Linked DNA regions of Homo sapiens. The protein of the gene in region 2 interacts with the protein of the main gene of each other region in a biochemical or structural test. Each region holds a gene or a part of one and is shown on either strand. Other genes may lie near its edges. The genes, in order: TNRC6B, CNOT1, NANOS2 and CNOT4.

Region 1 (7,028 bases), on a different chromosome or scaffold from region 2:
TGGCTCTGAGAAGAGCACTCTGCCAGGAAGCACCACTAGTAACAAAGGAAAAGGGAGCCAGTGCCAGTCTGCAAGTTCTGGGAACGAATGTAATCTTGGGGTCTGGAAATCTGACCCTAAGGCTAAATCTGTTCAATCTTCCAACTCTACTACAGAGAACAACAATGGACTAGGAAATTGGAGGAATGTGAGTGGTCAGGATAGAATTGGACCTGGCTCTGGCTTCAGCAACTTTAACCCAAATAGCAACCCATCTGCCTGGCCAGCACTGGTCCAAGAAGGAACTTCTAGGAAAGGGGCATTGGAAACAGATAATAGTAATTCCAGTGCACAGGTTAGCACAGTAGGTCAGACATCCAGGGAACAGCAGTCAAAGATGGAAAATGCGGGTGTTAATTTTGTTGTCTCTGGCAGAGAACAGGCTCAAATTCATAACACTGATGGACCAAAAAATGGAAACACTAACTCCTTGAACTTAAGTTCACCAAACCCCATGGAGAATAAGGGAATGCCCTTTGGAATGGGCTTGGGGAACACCTCCAGGAGCACTGATGCCCCTTCACAAAGCACTGGAGATCGAAAGACTGGGAGTGTTGGATCTTGGGGTGCAGCTAGGGGGCCTTCTGGAACTGACACAGTCTCTGGACAAAGCAATTCTGGAAACAATGGGAACAATGGAAAAGAGAGAGAGGACTCCTGGAAAGGAGCTTCTGTTCAGAAATCAACTGGGTCAAAAAATGACTCTTGGGACAACAATAACAGGTCTACGGGTGGGTCCTGGAACTTTGGCCCCCAGGACTCTAATGACAACAAATGGGGTGAAGGGAACAAAATGACATCTGGGGTCTCTCAGGGAGAATGGAAACAGCCGACTGGGTCTGATGAGTTGAAAATTGGAGAATGGAGTGGTCCAAACCAACCAAATTCTAGCACTGGAGCATGGGACAATCAAAAGGGCCACCCCCTCCCTGAAAACCAAGGCAATGCCCAGGCTCCCTGTTGGGGAAGATCTTCCAGCTCCACAGGAAGTGAAGTTGGAGGTCAAAGCACTGGAAGCAACCACAAAGCAGGAAGTAGTGACAGTCATAACTCTGGCCGTCGGTCGTACAGGCCCACACATCCTGATTGTCAGGCTGTCTTGCAGACTCTTTTGAGCCGAACTGATTTGGACCCCAGGGTGCTCTCAAACACTGGCTGGGGCCAAACTCAAATTAAGCAGGACACAGTGTGGGACATTGAAGAGGTGCCAAGGCCTGAGGGGAAATCTGACAAAGGAACTGAGGGGTGGGAGAGCGCTGCCACACAGACCAAGAACTCAGGGGGCTGGGGAGATGCACCCAGCCAAAGCAATCAAATGAAGTCTGGATGGGGGGAGCTCTCAGCCTCTACAGAGTGGAAAGACCCCAAGAACACAGGAGGCTGGAATGACTACAAGAACAACAACTCTTCCAACTGGGGAGGAGGACGACCTGATGAAAAGACACCTTCCTCTTGGAATGAGAATCCCAGCAAGGATCAGGGGTGGGGAGGTGGACGCCAGCCCAATCAAGGATGGTCTTCTGGAAAGAATGGTTGGGGGGAGGAAGTCGATCAGACAAAAAACAGCAATTGGGAAAGTTCTGCAAGTAAACCTGTGTCTGGGTGGGGTGAAGGAGGGCAGAATGAAATCGGGACTTGGGGTAATGGTGGCAATGCAAGCCTAGCTTCAAAAGGTGGGTGGGAGGATTGCAAAAGATCCCCAGCATGGAATGAGACGGGCCGACAGCCCAATTCCTGGAATAAACAACACCAACAGCAGCAGCCCCCACAGCAGCCGCCGCCACCACAACCAGAGGCTTCTGGTTCGTGGGGAGGCCCACCCCCACCACCTCCAGGCAACGTTCGACCTTCCAATTCCAGCTGGAGCAGCGGGCCACAGCCTGCAACACCTAAGGATGAGGAACCCAGTGGTTGGGAAGAGCCATCCCCACAGTCAATTAGTCGGAAAATGGACATTGATGATGGCACTTCAGCATGGGGAGACCCTAACAGTTATAACTACAAGAATGTGAATCTGTGGGATAAGAATTCCCAAGGGGGCCCAGCACCTCGAGAACCAAACCTGCCCACCCCAATGACCAGTAAATCGGCATCAGGTAAGCAGTGGCTTTCTCTTGCAGCTTTTGATGAAGAAAAGGAATCCTAGACCAAGGCATTTTTATTAGGTGAATTTATTCAACTTAGTTTTGTTCTGAGATGCTTTCCTACAGTTTCTACTCTGTTGCTAACAGAACCTCTTTTTATGAAATGCTAGTGATGGCAGATGCTGGTAGTACATTTTAATGTTCTTTCTTGGCAAAAGGAAAAGATGACAACCCTGTGTTAGTCCCCAAAATTATTTTTCTGTAATTGTATTGGTCTGCAGAATCCAAAAGACATATCTTGCCAAACAAACTATGTTCTAGATTTTAAAATAAAGAATTAAAGTAGTAGCAGAAATAGACCTGATTTCCATTCTGGTTCTACCCATGGACATGTCTCTGCTTCTGTTTCCCCAGCAAAGGGAAATAATTCTGTGTTTTTCCAAAGGCCATGATGATGCTGAAGCAAAGCTGGATCTGGAAGGTTTCAGTCTCTTTCTGGATGATTTTTAATGATTACCTCTGGAATGGGAGTACTTTGTATAAGAGATTGTTATCTCAGTCCTAGTGAGATGGCTCACACCTGTAATCCCAGCACTATGGGAGACTAGGGCAGGAGGATCCCTTGAGCCCAGGAGTTTGAGACCAGCCTGGGCAACCTAGAGAGACTTCAGTCTCTACAAAAATATTTTTTAAAAATCAGACGGGTGTGGTGCATGTGCATATAGTCCCACCTACTCTAGAGGCTGAGGTAAGAGGATCGCCTAAGCCCTGGAGATGGGAGGCTGTAGGGAGCTATGATCTCACCACTGCACTCCAGTTTGGGAGACAGAGCGAGACCCTGTTGCCAAAAAAAAAAGAGCGATTGTTAGGATAGTCAGTTGCCCAGAATTAAACTTTCTTCCGTCACTATTTGAATAGGAAACATCATACCTGGTAAAAGTAGCAATGGTAATGCCATTCTTAGTTTGTCATTGTCAACTTGAATGTCCCTATAGAGCATATAGTTCAACAAATTAAGGGGGATGCACCTTTCAGTCTTTTTTTAGTTAAAATTAATATTAAGAACCAGTTTTCTTTTTTTGAGACAGAGTCTCACTCTGTTGCCCAGGCTGGAGTGCAGTGGCACGATCTCGGCTCGCTATAACCTCCGTGCCAAGTTCAAGTGATTCTCTTGCCTCAGCCTCCTGAGTAGTTGGGATTACAGGCACCCACTGCCATGCCCAGCTAATGTTTGTATTTTTAGTAGAGACAGGATTTCACCATGTTGGCCAGGGTGGTCTCAGACTCCTGACCTCAGGTGATCCACCCGCCTCAGTCTACCAAAGTGCTGGGATTACAGGCATGAGCCACTGTGCCCAGCCAAGAATCAGTTTTCTCCGAGTACACCTCTAGTGTTCAGCTAATCCATTTGTGGCCTCTTAGAAAAATGATTACTTTTAACTCATTCTTTTTTCAAGTATTGAAAAGAATGAGGAAGGAAATGAAGATTTCTCACTGGCTCCCCATGCAGAATAAAACCTGCTAAAATTTTAAAAAGCTACATCCACATAGCAAAAACCTTCAAACTGTGTGGAAAAGCAAAAGATAGTCAATAAAATAATCTTTGGCCAGGCGCGGTGGCTCACGCCTGTAATCCCAGCACTTTGGGAGGCCGAGGCGGACAGATCATGAGGTCAGGAGATCGAGACCATCTTGGCTAACACGGTGAAACCCCGCCTCTACTAAAAAATCGAAAAAATTAGCCAGGCGTGGTGGCGGGCACCTGTAGTCCCAGCTACTCGGGAGGCTGAGGCAGGAGAATGGGGTGAACCCAGGAGATGGAGCTTGCAAGTGAGCTGAGATCACGCCACTGCACTCCAGCCTGGGCGACAGAGCAAGACTCCGTCTCAAAAAATAATAATAATAATAATAATAATAATAATCTTAACCCCTAGGGTCTCTTCCCAAAGGTAATCTCTTAGAAGTTTGTGTCCCATTCAAAAATTTTACAGAGAAGGGATTGTACTTCGTATACTGTTCTTCACCTTGCTTTTCTCATTATACTTATAGCTTCCAATTTTAGCACATAGTCTGCTGCTTAATTGCTTCATATACAGTATTTCTTTTTTTTTTTTTTTTTTTTTTTTTTTGAGAGGGAGTCTCACTGTCTCCCAGGCTGGAGTGCAGTGGCGCAATCTTGGCTCACTGCAACCTCCACCTCCCGGGTTCAAGTGAGCCTCCTTCTCAGCCTCCCGAATAGCTGGGATTACAGGCATGCGTCGTCACGCCCAGCTAATTTTTGTATTTTTTGCTGGAGATGGGGTTTTGCCATGTGGGTCTGGCTAGTCTTGAACTCCTGACCTCAGGAGATCCACCCGCCTTGGCTCCTAAAGTGCTGGGATAACAGGCGTGAGCCATTGTGCCTGGCCTTTACACAGTACTTCTTTTATGGGTGACCCACAATTGGTCTAACCAGTCCCCTTGTGGTGGATATTTAGGTTGTTTCCAAATTTTTTCTATCAGTGATGCGGTGAGTATTGTTATACATGTAATTTCACCTATTTTTACAAGTATATTTATGGTATAATTTTCTGGCAGCCTGGGCATGATGGCTCATGCCTGTAATCCCAGCACTTTGGGAGGCTGAGCCAGGCAGATCACAAGGTCAGGAGTTTGAAGCCAGCCTGGCCAATGTGGTGAAACCCTGTCTCTACTTAAAAAAAAAAATACAAAAGTTAGCTGGGTATGGTGGCACACGCCTGTAATCTCAGCTGCTCGGGAGGCTGAGGCAGGAGAATCGCTTGAACCTGGGAGGTGGAGGTTGCCATGAGCCAAGACCACGGCATTGCACTCCAGCCTTGGGGATGGAGCAAGACTCTGTCTCAAAAAAAAAAAAAAAAAAAAAATTCCTGGCAGTTGAGTTACTGGGTGAAAAGTTTAATGTGCATCGGATTTTTTAAAAAGTAGCATTGCCAAATACCCCTCACATGAAAGTTGAATCTATTTACATTTCTACCAACAGAATATAGGCATGCCTGTTCCTTCCACCTTCACCCCACTGGATATTATGGCATTTCATTTAACAAATGATTCTTAGAGACATTTCCTTTCTTTATAGTCTGGAGCAAAAGCACACCACCTGCTCCAGATAATGGTACTTCCGCTTGGGGTGAGCCAAATGAAAGCAGTCCTGGGTGGGGCGAGATGGATGATACAGGAGCATCGACCACAGGCTGGGGGAACACGCCCGCCAACGCTCCCAATGCCATGAAGCCTAGTAAGTGTGAAGCTTTTCATTTTTGAGGGATCCTTTTTTTTTTTTTTTTTTAATTGAGACGGAGTTTCACTCTTGTCCACCCAGGCTGGAGTGCAGTGGTGCAATTTCGGCTCACTGCAACCTCTGCTTTCCAGCTTCAAGCGATTCTCCTGCCTCAGCCTCCCGAGTAGCTGGGATTACAGGCGCCCGCCACCACGCCCGGCTAATTTTTGTATTTTTATTAGAGATGGGGTTTCTCCATGTTGGTCAGGCTGGTCTTGAACTCCTGTCCTTGTGATCCACCCGCCTTGGCCTCCCAAAGTCCTGGGACTACAGGCGTGAGCCACCGTGCCCGGCCGGGATTCTTTGTTAAATGTTTGTCAAATGTCAGATTTGAGAATCTGACATTTTGGTGAGGGCTGTTTAGTTTTAAGCTGTTGATTCAATGAGATTCAGGACCTTGAGTGTTAAATAATTAGTTAATAGCAAACGGTTGTGGCTTGGCTTGGCGTTTCTTAAAATGTTTAAGGTGAATTAAAAATCATAAGTTAATTTTGTTTTAAATTTAGTATCTGGACAGAATTATAATTTTGATGTGATGCTCTTTTAGCCCAGTGACTATGTGCTCACCATATCTAGCTTGCATTTCTACTTGTTAGTATAATTTAAAACAAGAGTTCCTGGCTTTTAATGTGGAACACGATCTGTGCTGCCCAGTGACTTCATCCTTCTGCACCTTCCTTTGCCGTTGTCTCTCTTCCACATAAGAGCATTTCAGATTTTTTAAACCTGGCATAAATTTCACTTCAATTTTTTAAATGAAGAACGTCACACTTATTCAGAATCATTGAAAATCTAAAATCTAAGCTGTACTTGATCCAGCTGGTGATGTGTGGTCACAGTAATGAGCAGAACTCTGTGGACTGAGGCTATGGAATGTCTCATTGACTGTTGCTAAATTCAGGTGCCTGTTTACACTTACTTTTGTAACTTTCTTTAAAATGTTCCAACATCTCTTTTCTACCATATAGAAGCAGATTTAAGGGATTATCTTTTGATTAAATAATGAACATTTCTGGAATGACCAAAATTCAAACAAGAAGATAAATTCTGTTAAGTTTATCACATTATATTCAGTACTCTTACAGTGCCACATAAGGGAATGTGATATTAGCTCTATTCTGGAAATTCACATGTGTGTATATGTAGTAATTTGACTACATTTTAAAAATCATGAATCTCCTCGACCTCATTAAAATAGTTAGCTTTATGAAAATTTTGTTTTTATCATTATTTCTATTGTGAAATCAGTCGTATCATCATGGGAAATGTAATCTAGTAGACTTGAAATAGACCCAAAATGCTGCAAGAAGATGTTAATCAGACCCTGGGCACAAAGAGATCCTTTAGCAGTATATTCAGGATTTTCATGTGTCTTTCCCAACCTCAGGATCACCTCTCTTCTATCACAAAACCACTTTTCCTCAGATTCTAAAAATGTCTTCTACTCTTCAGGATCATCTGTAGTTATAGCACACATCCTTTCTGTGGGTAAGTTAAATGTGTAATGTGCGGAAGAAAGGGCTAAACCATCATAGTCTACCAGTTGATGGAGACAGTTACCCTGTGATCTTCTGTAGCCTGTCTTAAATTTGATGTTATGAATCCTA
Region 2 (7,028 bases):
GCTCACACCTCTAATCCCAGCACTTTGGGAGGCCAAGGCAGGTAGATCACTTGAGGCCAGGAGTTTGAGACCAGCCTAGCCAACATGGTGAAGCCACTTCTCTACTAAAAAAATACATAAATTAGTGGGGCGTGGTAGCACATGCCTGTAATCCCAGCTACTTGGGAGGCTGAAGCACGAGAATCAGTTGAACCTCAGAGGTGGAGGATGCAGTGAGCCAAGACTGCACCACTGTACTCTAGCCTAAGCTACAGAGTGAGACCCTGTCTCATGAAACATTAAAAAAAAGGCAAAAAACAACCAAAAAAAATCATTAAAGCAGTAAACAAATTATTAATCATGATACCTGAATTATTAACCATGATATCTGAGACTCAAAACTAGTAAGTGAATTATTTGAAAAGTGTGTGCACATGCAACATCACTTTAAGTCATTTTGTATCGGCCTTCTCAAACAGCTTTCATCCTTCCTGGTTAACAGAAATGAGATTGTCAGATATCACATTTCCTTTTTAAATCTTAATTTATTTAAACCAACAAATATTTGGGTATCTACTATCTGTCAAACATCGTGTTGAGAATATAACAGAAAAAAAAAAAAACACACAGACATGATGCTTTGCCTCACAGAATTACAATCTAAAATGATGGAAGACATCAAACAAATATGGTGATTATTAAGAATAAGTGGTAACGCCCAGTGCCATATATAGACAAAGAAAAAAATTATTACAGACAAGCAGTAATACGTTTTGTACCTATACCAAGGAAATAGCCAACTTACACGAAGGGCTGAGGCAAAACTGTTTTTTAAGTTGGTAGATATGCTCATGAGCAAAGGTTCCCTGCATGTAATCATAGCCATTCCAGCTGTCAAGTTACGCATCATGTGATGAGCTGCTATTCGCATTCGAGATTCCTCCGAATCCAGGGCAAAATCCTTCCTGACTATTTGCTCACAAGTAGTCATGGCAATCTTAATTGATCGATCCACCACAGGATGGACCAGCTCCTGGACAGCCCGTTCAATTGCCTGACGCACACACTGCTTCAACTGTGGATGGGCCTGAAACAAGGGAATCTGGGGGGTTGGGGAGGACAAAGTCAACACCTTGTTTAAATAAGACAATCCAATTCCTACTGGCAATCACATTCATGATTTTGTAAATCAAGATTAACCAAAAACTACCAGTTTCTACTTAAAGTTAACCAATGGAAAATTCGGGTAACAGAAACTGAGCTCCATACAGGGAAATGTATTCAGTATACCCTGTGATACACAATAATAGATATGTCTTTTTTTTAAATCCAAGTTTAATGGACAAACTGTTCATTACAATATGCATTAACTACTTAAAGACACACTGCTGGCTTATTTAAAATTTGTGGCTCAAGTGCTCTTAAAAGAAAGCAACTTCTCCACTAGCTTGGGAAAATGTAAAAAGAATAAAGTTTATAGAAAAAAGACTTCTTACAAAAACTATTAAAATTAATTCATCAGAATAGTGAGCATTTTACAGTGCCCACTGAAGTATTTGGCTTCATTTGAAAGGCTGTTTCTAATCTTTTATTGCAGGTGTAAATTATGCCCCAAAACTTACTTGGTCCCTTTAACTTGTTGAATTAAAAAAAAAAAAAATTAAACTAGCATATAATAGTGTTCACAACACTAAGAGTATTCTAAAGATGAATCACAATTTCTGGATCTAGGTGTCCCACTGCCTCTCACTCCACCCCTCTAAAACTAAGTACCATGTCTATAGGAGTGGGGATGGGGGGACAAGGATAAAATGATTTCTCTGATACCCTTTCAATTCCTTTTAATAAAAAGTTCAATGTATTAATGTTACTCTTGTATTTGTGAACATTTTCAGTTTCTAAAAAGTAAGGACAATGAAAACTCCACTCACCTGATTCTGTATTATATATTCTGTTAAGTAGAATAAAAGACTAAAGATAACAATAAAATGTCCCCTTGAATGTACAAAGCAAATACTAACTATAGGAAAAAGGACTGATCAGAGGTCATCTTACATGACCATATTGTATCAGACCTCCTTCTGGAACCAGGCCACAACAACATAACTCAAAGTGCTAAGTCCTACTTCAAGATCTTAGCCTAGAAATTGTATACACACCCACAATCAGCTCATTTCCAGCCTTCAGGTGGAAGAAATGGCTTACTGCAGAAGGCTAAAGTGACAAGATAAAGAAAATAAAAAGCTATGATATACATTAAGCATCTTTTACTCTGTGTAAGGAATTCCTGGAGATTGTGATTTTATTGCTAGCTAAATTTTAGTATCATGGGTTTGGATATGAGGAACCAATATAACTAACATCTAGTCACTCTATCTCTTAAGGGAAGAAGAACAATCCCAACTGAACTACACAGCAGTTCTAGATCTCCATCCTCTCTGACAAACTCTACAACCTAGGAATCCAGAGGGAAGGGCAAAGAGCTGAAGAAAAGGTGGCCAAACAAAATTTACCTTATCACAAACTAGAAGCTGGGAGAATGGAGCAGTGTTTACTTACTGTTGGATTCAGAGTAATGTGTGGTGCCAAGCCCGCAAGGGAATAGACATTGATGTCGTGGTAGCTGTACTGTGGCTGTGGTGGAACCGTGGCTGTACAAGTGGTGTTGGTAGCTGGTGTAGTAGAAGTTGCTAAATGTCAAGTAATAAAAAGAGATTTAAAAAGTACATTTGTTGACTTTATTATAAAATTAGCTTAATATCATTAAGTGGTCATTATCTAATTAAACGAATTAAATTGGGAGAGGAGGGAAGGATGTAGCAGGTCCTATTTTTCCCACCCTGAAAGGGAAATTCTGTTGTTATAACAGAGATATACACGAAGTATGTTAAACTATGTCAGTGCCAGTGCCCCACAGCACAGAAATCAACTGAGCAGCCATGCCATATTGTCAGGCCCAAGTCCTATAAACTTAGTCTATATTATAAATGTATGTTTTCAACCTAGCCTGTTCCTAGGTTTATCTGGGGATTCTCAGCTGCTGAGGACTGAGAAAGAAAGAAAAGCTCAATTTATTCTAACCACAACTCCCAATCATTCAACACTCCCATACCCTTCTCCCATCTTCTTCATGTAGATAAAACAGTCCCATTCCCTTGGCAGATCTAGCAGGTCTGGCCATACCCAGATTTGAGGGGTTAACAGGCCATCATAGTATGCAGTTATTTCTGGGACTTCACACAACAAAGGAGATAACCTGGCCTAGCTGGGGTATGAGAGGCAACTGATTAAATCACATTTAGTTAATAATATGCATGAACTGTCAGGATGGAATCTAAGATGGTAACACAAGGCCTAGTCATTACTTCTGCTTGATAATTAGAAGGCTCACCAAAACGTATACAAAGTTTCACCACTACATTATGTGGGAAATTATAGTTTGCGATATACATGGACAAGTACCATTTAAGATAGTATCCTAGCTAACAGAAGCCTTCCTTGACTAATTAGCACACTTACTTGTGGTTGTGATGGGAGGGAGTTCTTCTGGCTGCTTGACATCTTTCTTTGGAGCAGAGAGTTGCTCATCTAAATTCTTCAGGCGATCTTTATCCTTTAGGAGGTTTCCAGGTTTTAGCTCATTGATGTCTAATGCAAGGTTCTTGCAGAGAACCTCGATTTCAAACTTCAAGTTTAACTGCACAGTTCCAGAGTTGGATTAGAATTTTTAAAAGAAAACTTTAGTTTTACTCATAATATACTCTACTTTCAGTTATTATAGTACTTCCCCCGAAATACCCTGCCTTCACTGTAAGTTTTAATAATGTGAAGGCAAAGAATGTTCCAGAGGACAAGGAAGCAGTAAATTACCTTTAAGTCATGCTCCTGATGTAGCTCAGCTAATACATTCATAATTGCCATTGTCCAAGGGTTTGGTGGCCTAAAAACCTAAAGAAAAGCTATTATGTTAAGCTGGCCCAAAATGTGCCCTTTAATTTGGATTATTTAAAACAATTCAATACAACATAAGGGGGTAGGGGGGAGTCAAACAAATAAAAAACAAAAAACAAGGATTAAAAAATAACCAAAAACAGTTAAACATAGTTAAACACTTATACCTCTGTAGCCATAACAAAACCCCTAGCCTTCTCACCTATATCACATTTCAAAAACAAAACAAAACAAAAAACCAAAAACCAAAGCCAACCATTATAATCTTTCTTATTTCACCCAGCCTCTCAAATTGGAAATCCAAGTGCCATAGAGGAAAACAGACTTAACTAGCTTTACCTCACAAGAACTAAGAATATAATCTCTTGACCTCATGCTAAAACAAAGCAATGCTTAGAAATTAGTCATAAATAAAATATTAAAATCTACTCACCACACTACGAATGCTAGATTCTAAGACTTTGGCAACAAAGGGCACTACATAGAGCAATTCTTGTTGTCCTTTAACATAAGCCTCTAGCAGCAATGATTTCACATCCAAGTCCTAGAATAAGAAAAATACTTTCAAAAGCGGGGAATATACCCCCCAAAATGGTATAACAAAACCAAAGAAAAGTATTTTGCCAAGCTTATCCCCAAAACAGGAATCAACATAATGTCTAGTCCTTGCCTTACAAAAAGGGGTTAACAACTCAAAACGTGGGCCAAAATCTTACAAAACCCCAATAATCATTAAATAGCTCCAAACAGCCAATACTTGTAATCATAATGTGCTGAAGATTCTCAATTTTTACACATTTAGATGAAACTCACAGTGTGTAAGATGGGTTTGTTTTTAGCTAATGTGATCATTCCTAGCCAATGTCCCAAGTTCTTCAGCAAAGAACGATCTGAGAAATTGGCTGCAGCTTTATCAGAGGTCAGGAGCACCTGAAATAGTGTAAGATTAAGAAAGATATGAGAATAAGCTTATGAAAGAAAACTCAACTAAGTATTTGAGAATTCCATTATCCTATCCTAAAGACAAGTCATCATTTCTAAGAACAGGCCCCAAAGTAGAATTACTCTGTATATCATTCTCAATATCATTTTGCTGTGTTTATGATTCAACAGTGCTATTTTTACCTTGAAGAAGTCTTTACATTTTATTTTTTCAAAATAGGTACAAACACATTGCACAAAATTCAAAAAGAACACAAAGTTATGTGCCAGCTATCCTCCCCTAGAAAAGTATTTTCAACTCTGAAAACCTTAGCTAGGTTTAAAGCAGAGACCTAACTACAAAGCTATTTTGAAGTGCTAAATTAATTTAAATGAGGATGATAGCCATGCTTAAGTCCTTAAAGGCAGCAAGCATACAAAGGAATATAATCAAATTAGCCTCCTATTGCAATCTTCAGTATACCCAGGTCATTAACAAATCTCTGCAGCCAACCAAGATAACTTTCTGAGATATAGTATAATACTGTTTATATACTTCTTTTCAAATTTCTAAAAAACCCAAACCATTTAACTGATTCTCCGGTTACTGTTTTTCTAAGGGGGGGCAGAACTAACATAGGAGAGTGTTTTGGCTGCAGGTATGCACACATGTATATACCCATCTACTCTGTGGTACCTCTTGACTTAGGGCTATATTTAAACTTCTGTTTAAAAAACATGGTCTTGAAACTTTGCTACAGAGTATGTGGAAACTTTTATGTATCCCAACCACCCTTGCTATCAGATAATAAAAACGAAATAGAGCCATGTTCCTTAACTCTATACAGCAACAGCAGAATGGCACAAGTCAGCTGTGCAACAGAGAGCCAGGAATTCTTTTGCACTACAGCGTAACCAAGAATGGGGAATATTCCCATCCACAGGTTTAAATATAGTGCTGGTTCCTAAGCCAATGACCCAAGTTATTGAGCAAAGAATGACCACAGCTGTATGCTGGTTCTAGAAGTTTTTCCTCCTAAGAAATAAATGATGGTTTAGAAATTAAAATACTTGAATTTTGTTGAATAAGCCTCAGCTCAGTAGAATTTGACCTTAAACTGCACAGACTCCTAGACAACAGCTATTCCACAAACAGATTTAGAGTCTAAAGATATCTTGCACTTGAATACTACAAGATACAAACGAAAACATTCAGGACAGCATTGTTTATAATAGTTTAAGTGATTAACAACACAAATGCCCAGCAGCAATACAAATACATACAATGGTTTTCTACAAGACTATATTTTTCTGTTTTTTAAAAAAGAGGACTGGCCGGGCACAGTGGCTCAGGCCTGTAATCCCAGAACTCTGGGAGGCCGAGGAGGGTGGATCACCTAAGGTCAGGAGTTCGGGACCAGCCTGGCCAATATGATTAAACCCCGTCTCTACTAAAAATATAAAAATTAGCTGGGCATGGCGGTACAACTATAATCCCAGCTACTCGGGAGGCTGAAGTAAGAGAACTGCTTGAACCTGGGAGGTGGAGGCTGCAGTGAGCCGAGATCGTGCCACTGCACTCCAGCCTAAGCAACAGAGTGAGACCACATCTCAAAAAAATTGAAAAAAAAAAAAAAAGGGGGCTACAGCAAAGAGCATTATCATTATCATGAATAATATCCAGGGGAGAAAAAAAAGTAAGTGAAAAAAAAAGAAAAGGATGTACAGAGGGCGACACCATACAGAATATGCTAACCAATACTATGCTGCTTATGTATAACAGTGGTAAAGTTCTAAAATCATGCATGGCATGACAAAAACAATTCATAATAGTGGTTACTTTCAAAGAAAAGGCACAGGGTATGCCTATAAATTTAAGTTCTGCATAAAATTTAGTTCCATATAAGAAACAAAATCTACAGCAATTTCCAGAGGTACCTAATATTGACAATATATATGGAAAAATAGCAAAAATCCTACCTATATAATCAAATATTTCCAAATTCAAAGCAATAATTAAAGGAAATATAAGAACCAACTCTTACTTTAATGTTTCTGTAGGTCTCATTCAGAACCATCTTGTTAAATTCAGGATTCTTCAGCGTGTCAAGGAAGTTTGAATACAGGCTATGAAAGTTTGGCTCAATACTGACTCTCTTCATAACCAGATACTGTGA
Region 3 (6,857 bases), on a different chromosome or scaffold from region 2:
GGTGCAGTGAGCCGAGACCGCACCATTGGCACTCCAGCCTGGGCAGCAAGAACGAAACTCCATCTCAAAAAAGAAAAAACAAAAACCAAAAATAAAAATTACCTGGGTGTGGTGGCGTGCACCTGTAGTCCCGCCTACTCGGTCACCCCGTCTCTACTAAAAATACAAAAATGGCCAGGCGTGGTGGTGCATGTCTATAATCCCAGCTACTCCGGAGGCTGAGAGGCAGGAGAATCGCTTGAACCCGAGAGGCAGAGGTTGCAGTGGGCCGAGATCGCGTCATTGCACTCCAGCCTGGGCGACAACAGCAAAACTCCGTCTCAAAAAAAAAAAAAAAAATTAGCCAGGCGTGGTGGGGCGCACCTGTAGTCCCAGCTATTCAAGAGGCTGAGGGAGGATAATCACTTGAATCCGGGCAGTGAGCCAAGATCGCACCACTGCACTCCAGCCTGGGCGACAGAGCAAGACCTTGTCTCACAAACAAACCAAAGACGGAAACAGATACAGCCATTTCAAAGACGACTAGAAAACCTTTTTATTCACCAGAGCTCAATACTCAGGGTCCCGACCCTGTGCCAAAAACTGAACAACTTAAAATCTGACGGGGGCCCTTCTTCTCTTTGCCCCTAAAATAAAAGCTAGGCCATTGCCATTCCCATCCGGGTACTCAAACCCCCTTCTTATCGGCGGTTCCTTGACTTGAACGTTGGAGGTTGAAAAACACAGGAGGAAAAAAAAATGTCCTTTAGTCAACTATCACGATTTGGGGGGTCGGACGGGAGGTGGTCGAGAGATATGCTTCTCGCTGGGGGAAAGGACCCATCGGTGATTTGGGGATGGGGGCAGGTACCGGGTGCAATGGGCTGAACAAGGGGAAGAACAACCAGGGGGCATTGAAAGGTGTCAGCTCACCCCACGGCTCTCCATCCACAGGTGAGCCTGCGAAGACACGGTGCCCTCCAGTGATACGGTGCTCTCCAGAGTCCTACTCCGCTCCTGACGGATGGGTACTGAGGTCAGGGAAGGAATGAACAGGCGTGGTCCACGATGACACCGTGGTTCTGCAGGAGGCTGAAGATGGAGAAGGCTGGTCTTAAGTCGACATCCCATCTTGAAGTTCTTGAGTAGGCACTTCTCAGCCAGCCTTGTTCAGTATCTCCTAAGGGCTGGCTTGGGACAGCACCGTGGAATCCTGGAGGTTCAAAAATCCAAGAACTCCACAAGGAACAGAGAAGTCGAAGGGGCAGGGCTCCAGTCACCAGCAGGCCCCACGAGGACAAAAGATCCATGAACCGGGGCCCAGAGGGCGCTACAGGGCCGTGCAGGAAGGGTTCCCGCGGCACCAAGGACCCTCAGGCCAACGCCCACAGGCCAGAGCTCCGAGGGCTGACAGGTCCAAGGGGGCGGGGCTGGCCTGGCTCCCAGCAGCCTCCACTGTTTCAGGATCCAGCCAGGGTGGAGTTCTGGGGGCCAGAAATTCCAAAGGGCTGGGTGACTGGAAGAGAGAGTTTAGGGACTTGGGTGGGATGGACCAGGAGGGTCAGGGGTGCGGGTGGTGAGCATCTCACGATGCTCAGCGCTTGACCCTGCGTCCGGCCGAGTTGCGCCCGCTGCGGCGGTAGAGGGACTGCTGGCCACCGTTAAGCGGGCAGTACTTGAGCGTATGGGCCTGGTCACCGGTGGCCCCGCACACGGGACACACGTAGTGCCTCAGGATGGGACACACCACCACGCCATCCGGTGTCTTCAGCTGGTGTGAGGAGTAGACGTGGCGGGACTCCCCGTTGTGCTTGCAGAAGTTGCACAGGGTCCCCAGGCCCCCGTTGGCCCCTGGCGCCCCCAGCCCCTGATCCTGCCCCAGCGGAGGCCCGGGACTTGGCTCCTCAATCTCTTGGGTCTCCAGCCTTTGACCCCGACTTGCGATCAGCGCCCACACCACCTGGCTCAGGTTGAAGTAGTCCTTCCACATGTCGAAGGGTGGCAGCTGCATGGCACCAAAGCAGGGGTGGTGGGCCACAGGAGAGGGGCTGGGGCTGGGGGCCCGTGGGCAAGGGCAAGAGCAGCAGGCGTTTCCCAGAGCAGAAGGGAGCTGCATCCCCTTTTATAACGCCCAGAGACTCTTCTAAGTAAAGGTGGAGCTTAGGATTTAAAGGGCTCACTCCCTGCCCATAACCCCCATCTGACTTTAGTTCTTCACAGAGATGTGGAAGGAGGTCATTCCCCTGATCTCTGGTCCCAGCTCTGCTGCCAAGGTGCTCTGTGACCTCTGGGAAGACACTTCCATTCTCTGTGCCTCAGTTTCCCTATCTGTTCAAAGAAAGTCCATGTCTGCAAATATCCCCCACCCCTAGGCTGGAGGGGCTGCACCCTTCATAGACTTCAGAGTTATTCCTAATCATCATAGCAGCCAGGCTGGGCGCAGTGCCTCACACCTGTAATCCTGGCACTTTGGGAGGCTGAGGAAAGAGGATCGCTTGAGCCCAGGACCTCTAGGCCAGCGTGGGCAAAATAGCGAGACCTTGTCTCTACAAAAAATAAAAAGACAAAAATAATAATAACAACATGACCTGATTTATTTTATTTATTTATTTACTTGAGACGGAGTCTTGCTATGTCGCCCAGGCTGGAGTGCAATGGCACGATCTCAGCTCACTGCAACCTCTGCCTCCTGGGTTCAAGTGATTCTCCTGCCTCAGCCTCCTGAGTAGCTGGGATTACAGGCGCCCACCACTAAGCCTGGCTAATTTTTTTTTTTTTTTTTTTTGTATTTTTAGCAGAGACAGGGTTTCACCATATTGGCCAGGCTGGTCTCGAACTCCTGACCTCAGGTGATCCACCTGTCTCTGCCTCCCAAAGCGCTGGGATTACAGGCGTGAGCCACCGCACCCGGCCTAGTATTTTCATTTTACAGAGAAAGATATGAAGCTTGGAGAGGTTAAGGAATGTATCCAAGGTCACACAACAAGGAAATGGCAGAGTCGGGTTTCATAATCACTCTGGGAACTGGGAATTGATGTTAAAAGTGGCAGAGGAACTTGGCACAGAACAATCTCACTTAGAATGCCCCCTCTTGGGCTAGGCATGCTGGCTCACGCCTGTAATCCTAATATTTTGGGAGGCTGAGGCTAGAGAATCACTTGAAGCCAGAAGTTTGAGACCAGCCTGGGTAACATAGTGAGACCCTGTTTCTACATATAATACAAAATCAGCTGGGCATGGTGGCATGTGCCTGTAATCCTAGCTAGTGAGGAGGCTGAGGCAGGAAGATCACTTGAGCCCAGGAGGTTTAGGCTTCAGTGAGCCATGATTGTGCCACTGCAGTCCAGCCTGGGCTACAGAGTGGACCCTGTCTTTTTTTTTATGAGATGGAGTCTTGCTCTGTCACCCAAGCTGTAGTGCAGTGGCACAATCTTGGCTTACTGCAATCTCCGCCTCCCAGGTTCAAGTGATTCTCCTGCCTCAGCCTCACAAGTAGTTGGGATTACAGGTGCCCACCACCACACCTGGCTAATTTTTTGTATTAGTAGAGATGGGATTTTGACATGTTGGACAAGCTGGTCTGGAACTCCTGACCTCAGGTGTGATTCACCTGCCTCGGTCTCCCAAAGTGCTGGGATTACAGGCATAAGCCACTGCGTCTGGCCAACCCTGTCTCTCTAAAAAAAAAAAAAAAATAGCCCTTTCTTGGCCCCATCCATTGTCTTAAATCCTTCCTGGCCTTTGGAACGAGCAAAAGCCTCATCTCCCGCCCACCGCACCTGGGGTTCTTCTTCCACCCACAGTCTCCATGGGCCACCTTGATATTCAACACATAGTTACTGAGGCTCCATATTGGGTGCTGGAAATTCAGCAGTGACCAAGGCTACCTTATGCCTGCTTCATGAACGAGTTCAGGAGAGCGACCAGTAAATGAGAAAACGCTAGACTGTAAAGACCTGCTGGCCTGTGAACCGGGTGTTCTAAGAGTGGCTGGCTCAGGAATGGGACTTGGAAGCTGAGACCACTAAGAAGAATCTTCCAGGAAGAGGAACACAGGATATGGAAACTGTGGCTGGGTGTGGTGGCTCATGCCTGTAATCCCAGCACTTTGAGAGGCCGAGGTGGGTGGGTCACCTGAGGTCAGGAGTTCGAGACCAACCTGGCCAAGATGGTGAAACCACCCCCATCTCTACTAAAAATACAAAAATTAGCAGGATGGGCACAGTGGCTCACGCCTGTAATCCCAGCACTTTGGGAGGCTGAGGTGGGCGGATCATGAGGTCAGGAGGTTGAGACCAGCCTTGGCAACATGGTGAAACCCCGTCTTTCCTAAAAATACAAAAATTAGCTGGCGTGGTGGCGGGTGCCTGTGATCCCAGCTACTCAGGAGGCTGAGACAGGAGAATTGCTTGAACCTGGGAGGCGGAGGTTGCAGTGAGCTGAGATCATGCCATTGCACTCCAGCCTGGGTGACAGAGCGAGGCTCCATCTCAAAAAAAAAAAAAAAAAGTAATAAAAAATAAAAAATAAAATAAAATAAAATAAAATAAAATAAAATTAGCTGGGCGCAGTGGTGGGTGCCTGTAGTCCCAGCTACTTGGGAGGCTGAGGCAGGAGGATTGCTTGAATCCAGAAGGTGGAGGTTGCAGTGAGTCGAGTTAGGGCCACTGCACTCCAGCCAGGGTGACAGAGTGAGAATCCATCTCAAAAAAAAAAAAAAAAAAAAGACATCCTGAAATTTGGGAACAGCAAGGGGGCTGGAGTGGCTAGAATGGAGTGAAGATCCCAGGATGAAGCCAGCATGATTTGCAGAGGCTGGACACCCTCAGACTCTGCAAATCTCCCTTAGGGCATGTTTTGGAATTGGTGAGGGCGTTTTGAGTTTGTCACCGTGATTGGAGGTGTGGCTGGATTTAGTAGGTGGGGACCAGGGATGGCAGATATCTCGCAGTTCGCACCACCAAGACCTGTTCTGAGCCCCACTTAACTTTCCAGTGTCCCACTGAACACCCATCTAGGTAGAAAAACCCATTTATAATTATCCAAATTCAGAGCCTAGCTATGTTTTATATATAAGCACTAGGTGCTTTTTGCATTATTTTAAGATAACACTCATTTTTCCTGGAATGCAACCACTGTGTTCATTCTGGTCTTCAAGCTCTTGGTTTTTCTGAGAACTTTATTCAGTTATTCACCAATTCTAGAAGCCACAACACTCAAGGCAATGCTGCTTGTGGTATCTGTCTCCAAACAACATACCATTTGTTTGTATCTCATTCATGGTGAATCTACACAGAGAGGCTAGTGTCTGCCCTGCTCAGATGATTTTTGGAGTGTCCATGCCTGAGCATTTATACACTTACATAGACATTATTTTATTATAAATTACTGTCTTTTTATTTTCCCTTTATATTTTGGTTAGGACACGACACGATATCCATTTTTGAAAATAAAATTTGTGACTGGGCACAGTGGCTCACGCTTGTAATTCCAGCACTCTGGGAGACCAAGGCAGGCGGGTCACTTGAGGTCAGGAGTTCCAGACCAGCCTGGCCAACATGGTGAAACCCCGTTTCTACTAAACATACAAAAATTAGCCGGGCGTGGTGGCACGCACCTGTAACCCCAGTTACTCTGGAGGCTGAGGCAGGAGAATTGCTTGAACTCAGGAGGTGGAGGTTGCAGTGAGCTGAGATAGCACCACTGCACTCCAGCCTGGGCGACAGAGCAAGACTCCATCTCAGGAAAAAAAAATAATAAAATAAAATAAAATTTGTATGTTGGTGAGCTATATTACCTATGAGTTTAATTTTCAAGGTCCTAAAGGGTAATTGCAAAATGTTATCTATAATGTTGGGGGTCCTCTCTTGGCCCCATCCATTGTCCCAAATTCCCATTCCTGTAATCCCAGCACTTTGGGAGGTTGAGGCAGGAGGATCACTTGAGTCCAGGAGGTTGAGACCAGCCTGGGCAGCATAGTAAGACCTAGTCTCTATAAAAAGTACAAAGAAGTTAACTGGTGATGCATGCCTATAGTCCCAGCTACTTGGAAGCCTGAGGCAGGAGGATTGCTTGAACCCAGGAGGCTGAGACTTCAGTGAGCTGTGTTCGTGCCACTGCACTCCAGCCTGGGTGACGGAGTGAGACCTCATCTCGAAAAAAAAAAAAAAAGATCATCTATGAAATGAAGACACAATTGAGACAATAATCATAGGCACACTCATTACTGAGCATCTGTGGGCTGGCACCATGCTCAGGGCCCGACCTGTGTCATCTGTAAATCCTCCCAGATCCTGTCAAATAGTCTGTTAATGGTCCTGTTTTACAGATGAGCAAAGGGAGACTTAGAGGGGCTCAGGAGCTTTTCCAAAGTCATATGGACAGTAAGTGTTAGTCTGGGCTGGGCACAGTGGCTCACACCTGTAATCCCAGCACTTTGGGAGGCTCAGGCGGGCAGATCACTTGTGGTCAAGAGTTAGAGACCAGCCTGGCCAACATGGTGAAATCCGGTCTCTACTAAAAATACAAAAATTAGCCGGGTGTGGTGGCGGGTGCCTGTAATCCAAGCTACTTGGGAGGGTGAGGCAGGAGAATCGCTTGAACCTGGGAGGTGGAGGTTGCAGTGAGCCCAGATCGCACCACTGGACTCCAGCCTGGGTGACAGAGCAAGACTCTGCCTCAAAAAAAAAAAAACAAAAAAAAACACCATTAAAAATAAAAATAATGTTAAAAAAAAAAAAGGTGTTTCTCCGGAGCTGAAACCCAAGACTGTTTGACCCCGACCTTGGACATCCTCCCACCCCCTGTAGAAGGAGCACGCAAAGCCCGCTGTGAGCGAAGAACCTGCCTAAGACCCCAAGGGAAAGCAGCAGACCCTG
Region 4 (7,028 bases), on a different chromosome or scaffold from region 2:
TTTTTAATGCAAACAATGATGTGCATAAATGTTAAAAGCATCTAAAATAAACCACTGTTTACTACAATAACTTCATTCTTATACCAAGCACTACAGAGGTGGCAACGAATAAGATAAGTAATAGCATATGGTTTGCCATAAAATAACCATACAGGGCTAGAAAAGGGTGGGTACAAAAGATTAAAGGAAAAGATCAAAGCTTGTCAAACCAGAAAGATCTGTTTTGACTTAGCTTTTATTCTTAGCTTTGATATAAACAAATTTTACATAGTTTACTATACAGTAACTTTATGTTTCGCTTTGTGGCCTATTTTATATTTATTTATATTTACATACACATATATATGTGTCTAATTTAGTTTTTAATAATTTAAATAATCTTTACTCTTAAAATGAATAAACACAGACTTCAAAATTTAAAGAATGTGTTTTTGAAGAAATGGACTCAAACAATAATCCATGTAGTTATTATTAGCTATGTTTGAAAATAGTTCTTACATCATTTTAGCACCAAACAGACACTGGGCTATAATATTTAACACCTAGACATTAGGACAACATTCAAACAAATTTAACTTTGGAATTTTAAAAAAAGATCATCAACATAAATTAATTACAACATTTACTTTTAAAATTCATTTGATAAAAGTTAAACTTATCAAATAAAAAAGAACAAAAAACCTAACACATCAAATTTAAAGAAAGTTCAGGATAGAATAAAATTCCCAAATTATATTTATTAATATGATTTTCTGACAGGCCATAACAAAATATAATCTAAGATAAGAAGATCAACATATCAGAATGAGACTCTCTACTGAAGACCATAAATTTATTTAAGCATTGACACAATATAGTTTACCCAAAACCATAATGAGATGGAAGATAGGAGATGACTGGTCTCCTAAGATAAGTAAGATTCTGAATATGGGATACTCCCTGTTCATTTACAGGATTTAAATGACTTTAGTGATTCCTGGAACTAGATATCCTTGAATATCTGTGTCCCCAACACACAAGGCTTCCTTCAGATAACACCCACTTTCCCTTTTATAGTATTTTCCCCCTAATTATATCAAGGGGGACCTCAATTAGGTAATCAGAGCCTTTTAAAACCTAAAATCCCTTAATTTTCTCTTTAATAAGGAAAGTATTCCCTGGGCTCAGAGTAGTCTGCAAATCACCACAAAAGGTGAACCCATCAAAAAGCTAGTCTGAAGTGTTACCAGGGAAAAGTAGGCAGCAAGCATTCAAACCCAGAAATTGTGACTCAACATTTCCCATACAGCTAAACAATTCTGCATAAATGACAGACCTTGTCAACAAGGATTTTGCCTGAAAAAGATCTAAAATGAAAAGAGAAGATCAACTGATAAGAAGGTAAGATGTCTGACTATCAATATCAATACTTACGTATCGTACCTCTGCAGTGGTGTCACTTTGTTCTTATTTTTATCAACTGAACCCGTAGATAGCTGAAGAAAATTGGGATTTAATTTATATAATTCTTGAAGTAGCTTCTGTTCATATTCTTGGTGTTTACCCGCCTAACGAAAGAAGAAATTAAAACTGCAGTGGGATTCACAAAATGGCTGGTATAAAATACTGAATAATCTTCTGAATTATTAAATATATTTTAAATAAAATAAATAATATTTTTAAAAAATAAAATATTAAATAAATTTTAAATAAATTTTTAAATAAAACAAGTAAGAGAAACCTGTGAGGATATCACAAAACTTCTAGATCAATGAAAGTCATTCCAACAAAATTATATGATATATATCTGATAAATTAAATTAAGGCATTTCATCAACCCATTTATTGTACAGAAAAGCATATTAAGGGAAGAACATTTTTGCTAGCTCAAAAAGTGTAAGGTCCACTTTAAACCTACTTCCAAGTCTTTCATGTAAGAATTAAGTCTTGTAACACTGAGTTTTCTGAAAATCAGCCAAAATTCATCAGTCTCCTTTTTAATTTGGAGATTAGCACTTGAAGTAATACATAGATGAACAGTTTTACTATATTCTTCATTATCTTGACACTAAGTAAAACTTCCATGAATTAGTTTTTGCTTTCTCTTTTCTTCTATGGTTATCAAAAGTAAAATAAAAATTAATGTATTTTAAACTCTAGACCCAGGGTCAGCAATTTACAGCCAGTTGCCTGTTTTTATAAATAAAGTTTTACTGGAACATGGTCATGCCCATTCATTTACATATTGTATTTGGCTGCCATTCTGCTACAAAGGCAGGATGTAGTAGTGCAACAGAGGCAGAGTAAAGTAGTTGTGACAGAAGACTACATACATAGCTCAGAAACCCTAAAATATTTACTAACTGGCCTTTACAGAAAAAGTTTGCCAACCTCTGCTCTATACACAAAAGAATGCTATGCTTACTCTAGCTGGGTAGGTGTACATCAAAAGGCAATGTCACAAATATTATGGGAAAAATTAGGCAAAGATTGCCTGTGGAAGCTAATTAGACACAAAAATAAATGATAATGAACTTACTTTGAGTAACATTTTACTATTTGCATGTATATCTAGACTGGAAGAATAGTTTTACTTACCTTCAGGGATGTTAATTTTTTTAAATTATGGTCTAAATAGATGTTATACAACAAAACCAAAACGGAACAAATCAAAACAATAACAAGTGAGGGCAATTGCACTTAACTGAGCATAATTGTGTCATATATACTGCACAATGCATCGTTCCCTGTTCTGAGAGGCCACTTGCTTGTTTCTATTGGACCTATAAATATTTCCTATGGCACTAAATTTTGAGTTACGCAGTAACAAGGAAAGATTTTCTGATTTTTGCCATAAAATTTATTCAAATTTCTTTCCTACATCAAGAAAGTGTTTTAACAACAACAACAAAAAATCCCCTTTTAAAGTAATTTTAAACTCAGCTAAAGAAGAGCAAGATAAATTCAGGACAACATTATGAAATTAGTTTTAAATTATTTTTAAAAATACATTAGATGTGAAATTTACATTTTTAAAACATGAAAAGTCTTGAAAATTATTTCTGGAATCAATACTTCAGGAGATACGGCTTTCACTAATATCTGTGGAAAGCCACAAAGAGCTCAACTTGATATTAAAATGACTCTACAGGGGCAGTTCATAAAGACAGGTTAAATCCCATTACAAACAAGTTCCAAAGGACAGCCCATACATTTTATTTTATTGTTTAATATTACTTTAAATGAGATCAACTGGGTGGGACTTGTAAATTCTGATAGACAGAAATTGATAGGAAATATGAATAAAGTATACCCTCTACTAATTAAAATTTAGTTTGAAATTTTGAAATGGTTCTACCTTAGATTTCATTCAAGAAGGTTTCATCCAAAAAACAAACAAAAAAAGCATTAAGAAATCAGTTAAGTCATCTGTCCTTATTAAATATCAGATAGACCTTATTTTAACATTGTTTTTGAATCATAAAGACCATACTATCAAGAAAACTCTGATGTATTTATTATAATGGGATTTAATCTGTACTAGCTCCAAGTCAAAAAAGGTAATACTCCATTTAACAATCTTTTCTTAAAGGAGCCCCTACCAGACTTTCTCTAGTTTGACCTGGAGAATGAAAGGTAGCAATGAATGCCCCCCACCTTCTAAATGAGAAGTATTCCTGAAAAGTCCACAGCAACAATCTGAAGTCCTCATCTACAATAGGGAAGTGCAGCATTGTGCTTTGGTATAATCCTCATTTAATATGTCGTATGGTCAACATTTTTACTTGTTAAGGCATGTTTATACTACAAATTGAAAGGAGACAGGAGAAGAGGAAATGTAAAAAAGAACATAGGATATTAAGCCTTCAATTCACCCTTTACAGGATACTGACTCAGTGGACACTTGCATGGGGAGAATAATTTTGTAAAAATAATATTAGTTTATCAGCATCATTTGACAGAGTATTATTTTCTAGCAAGCTCTGTAAAGAGTATAGATTGGTTTAACAAATAATTACAATATCCCACTTAGCTTTCATTTTGTTGACATTCCCCTTAAAATAGCATTTCCCAAAGTGTTTTCCTGGTCAACTAAGTTCTGGTTGTAAATTCCCTTCGTGGATCTGTATTAGCATATTAAGGACTCTGAAAAGTCTTAAAGCAAAGAAACCTGTTCATCTTCATTAATCTAGCATTTCAAACTTAGTTGACCACAGACACATTTTTATTGTAACAATATCCTGCAGAACTGACCTTCCATTAAACACTTCATTTGGCAAATGCTACTTTAAAGTAATATCAGTTTTTACAAAATCAAATCCTTAGTTTTTGCTTTTGCAATGTTAACTAATAAAAAAAAAAGTACTCCCTTTTCTGCAAAGTTGATAATTCACATGACTTTACTACCTGCATTTCCTCTTTTGTGAAGCTGGCCGCCTCATCCCCCAATTCATGAAGATACATGCAGTCAGGTTTTGGACACTGCATATTCTTTAAGAAGTAACTGCAGTATTTTGTTGTACCTAGAGATGCCTGCAGGAGGAAGAGGGGTAAAGGAAAAGAAGACTCAATGTGAACTGACAACACAATGAGAATCTCCATGTTTAGTGTTTTCAAGTCACCTAAAATGAGGCACAAACATGACAAAACAAAAAGTATGGCTGCAAATACTAGAGAACTAAACTCTTATTAGCAGGATTTATTATAGATGAGGCTCATTTGGAAGAACTAAAGGAAACATCTGTCTATGGTTTCCAAAACTTGGACACCCAAATCTTCCCTAGATATAAGGAGAGGAGATAGACAAAAAAATCTGTTCCATGTTATGAGTGGTTAGACACATAAGAAGGCAAATTCCTTTTTCTAATTATGCCATCCTCCTTCCACTAACAGTAAAGCTTTGCTTAGTGGGACTCTTCACTGAAACTGGAATCAATGTCCATATATTTAAGGACTACCTATTTCTGAAGAAAATAATGGTACTATTTTCACAAAATAAGATATATGTAAAAATGCGATATTTTAAAAGATTATCCCCGATAATGAATGTGTTTATTCCTATCTGGTAAAAGAGGACCCTACAGAAACCAGCAGTAAACAAATTAGCTATAATAGATGGTATGGACCCTAAGACAGACTCTTCAAATTAACTGTCAAATTTAATATATAAATGCTCAGTTCTCCTCTACTTACTATATTTTATCTCGTCTTCCTTAAAAAAAAAAAAAAGAATCAAGAGGACTATATTACCTTAAGTGTTCTGCCATCTACTACCACATTGTTGACACACTGTATGGCTCTGAGAGCGTCTTCTGACCGGATATAGGTTACATAAGCACTGGCACTTGGACCCTAAAGTGAAAACATCCCATTCCACTGTTATTAGTTAAAAATTAAACAATACTAAAAAAATTCTACTGCAACCTAGGGAATTCTAAAGACCCTGACTACTACTATTACTAATGACAATAATTAGTAGTAGTAGTGGCAGTTTTGATTAAACACTAAACTAGCTCATTTGAAAGTAATAATACTCAATGAATTTTATCTGATTTTAAGAATACTGTAATATATGTGAATAAAATATTACTTTGGCTTGGGATTTATTTTTTTAGACAGTCATTTGACAGGCTCGTCAAGGTTATAAAAAAATTAAAATTTAGATTAAAAAATAAGACTTAAAGACTATGTCAAATTACATTCTCAAAAATAAATGCAATCTGGAAAACTATTCTATCTGATAACAGCAGCATAACAAAGACACTATTAAGTTTTCAATATCTGAAAATATTACAGATTAGAAATCACTATCGAATCCTCATCTATTTATCACATTGCCTGATAACAGACTCACCTCCCCCTCCCTTTCACTCCATCACTAAATGTTTGTTTTACTATTTCCCTCTTAATTGTTAAGTCCTAGAAGGGTCAAATAAGCAGCAAAAAATCCCCCACCCCACCAACAGAGGTCACTACATTGCTTAAGTCCTTGTCCCTCAAGCTTTCTAATCAGAGAGAGCAAAGTTTCCTTTGGAACAGCCCAGGTCAAGCCCAGACCATAGGGAGGAAAAGCAAAAATCCCTAAAATTAGTTACCTGTGAGCCTGCATATGATGTGCTATTATTGATGACAACTTTATGTATTTTACCAAACTTCCCAAAATATTCTGGTCGTTTTAAAACCTATAAAAGAAGAAGAAATAAGGTATAAACTGTCCCCATTTTAAACAACTTTATCCTTATAATGGAGACATTCATCATCCCTCTTCAGCAAAAGGAAAAAGATAATTTTTAAAGTTTTCTAATAAATGTCACTACCTCCTAATTGCAGTTTGTGTAGCTAACCTATAGGAAATCAAAAGAGTTTAAAAGCTATTTTTTTTCTTGACCCACTGAATAGAAACTGAGACTCACTAAATTTGGTATTATCTACTATGTTCTAATAACTGCTCCAATAGTCTATGGGATCTTACCTGTACAGTATTCTTAAACACAAAACAGATCAAAGATCTTAACTACATTGCCATTAAGAGATGATCCTTACACGAAAGCAATTCTTCAAAAACAATGACCAAAATTATGTATTAAAGGTAAAGACAGAATTGAAAGAACAGACATAAAGACAGTCTTTACTCATAAATCTATTGCATATAACACTGTTTATAAATCACAAATTTCAAGTAACAGAGTGCCCACTCAACCCTCTATGCTTTATGATTTATCATTGTGCATACAGTTTCCTATGTCAATCAGTTTTACCATTTCTCATCTGTCTCATGAGGCTTTTTCCCCTACTTTTCCTGGTACGTAACATTTCGGAAACAAATTTACACGTTTCTTTCTTTATTACCTGGTTACTTCTTGGTGGTACCTACGTACCTCATCTCCTTTACTTTGTGAACACTATATGCATTCTTTCAGCTTCTCTTACAAACTTAACCTTGGCTAATTTGACCGGTATGTAACTTGATAAAAAGACATCTCACATAATTTGCAACTACCTCAAAATTCTGTTTTCCTAGAATGTATCTTTAGACCTACTGTTCCTAC

The links.
Region 1: the proteins of CNOT1 (region 2) and TNRC6B form a complex in vitro, tested with the Homo sapiens proteins (one study listed by BioGRID).
Region 3: the proteins of CNOT1 (region 2) and NANOS2 form a complex in vitro, tested with the Homo sapiens proteins (one study listed by BioGRID).
Region 4: the proteins of CNOT1 (region 2) and CNOT4 form a complex in vitro, tested with the Homo sapiens proteins (one study listed by BioGRID).

The regions. Positions count from the first base shown.
Region 1 is NC_000022.11:40,264,902-40,271,929, forward strand, and holds part of TNRC6B (trinucleotide repeat-containing gene 6B protein), read left to right. Parts: coding exon 1-2,135; intron 2,136-5,220; coding exon 5,221-5,379; intron 5,380-7,028.
Region 2 is NC_000016.10:58,542,823-58,549,850, forward strand, and holds part of CNOT1 (CCR4-NOT transcription complex subunit 1), read right to left. Parts: coding exon 6,897-7,028; intron 5,812-6,896; exon of another isoform or gene 5,677-5,811; intron 4,861-5,676; coding exon 4,744-4,860; intron 4,475-4,743; coding exon 4,364-4,474; intron 3,928-4,363; coding exon 3,850-3,927; intron 3,677-3,849; coding exon 3,499-3,676; intron 2,670-3,498; coding exon 2,539-2,669; intron 1,082-2,538; coding exon 785-1,081; coding exon of another isoform or gene 563-784; exon of another isoform or gene 331-562; intron 1-330.
Region 3 is NC_000019.10:45,912,704-45,919,560, forward strand, and holds NANOS2 (nanos homolog 2), read right to left. Parts: upstream 2,076-6,857; 5' UTR 1,991-2,075; coding exon 1,574-1,990; 3' UTR 511-1,573; downstream 1-510. UniProt on the Homo sapiens protein: Plays a key role in the sexual differentiation of germ cells by promoting the male fate but suppressing the female fate. Represses the female fate pathways by suppressing meiosis, which in turn results in the promotion of the male fate.
Region 4 is NC_000007.14:135,409,102-135,416,129, forward strand, and holds part of CNOT4 (CCR4-NOT transcription complex subunit 4), read right to left. Parts: intron 6,162-7,028; coding exon 6,075-6,161; intron 5,332-6,074; coding exon 5,230-5,331; intron 4,513-5,229; coding exon 4,387-4,512; intron 1,548-4,386; coding exon 1,414-1,547; intron 1-1,413. UniProt on the Homo sapiens protein: Has E3 ubiquitin ligase activity, promoting ubiquitination and degradation of target proteins. Involved in activation of the JAK/STAT pathway. Catalyzes ubiquitination of methylated RBM15.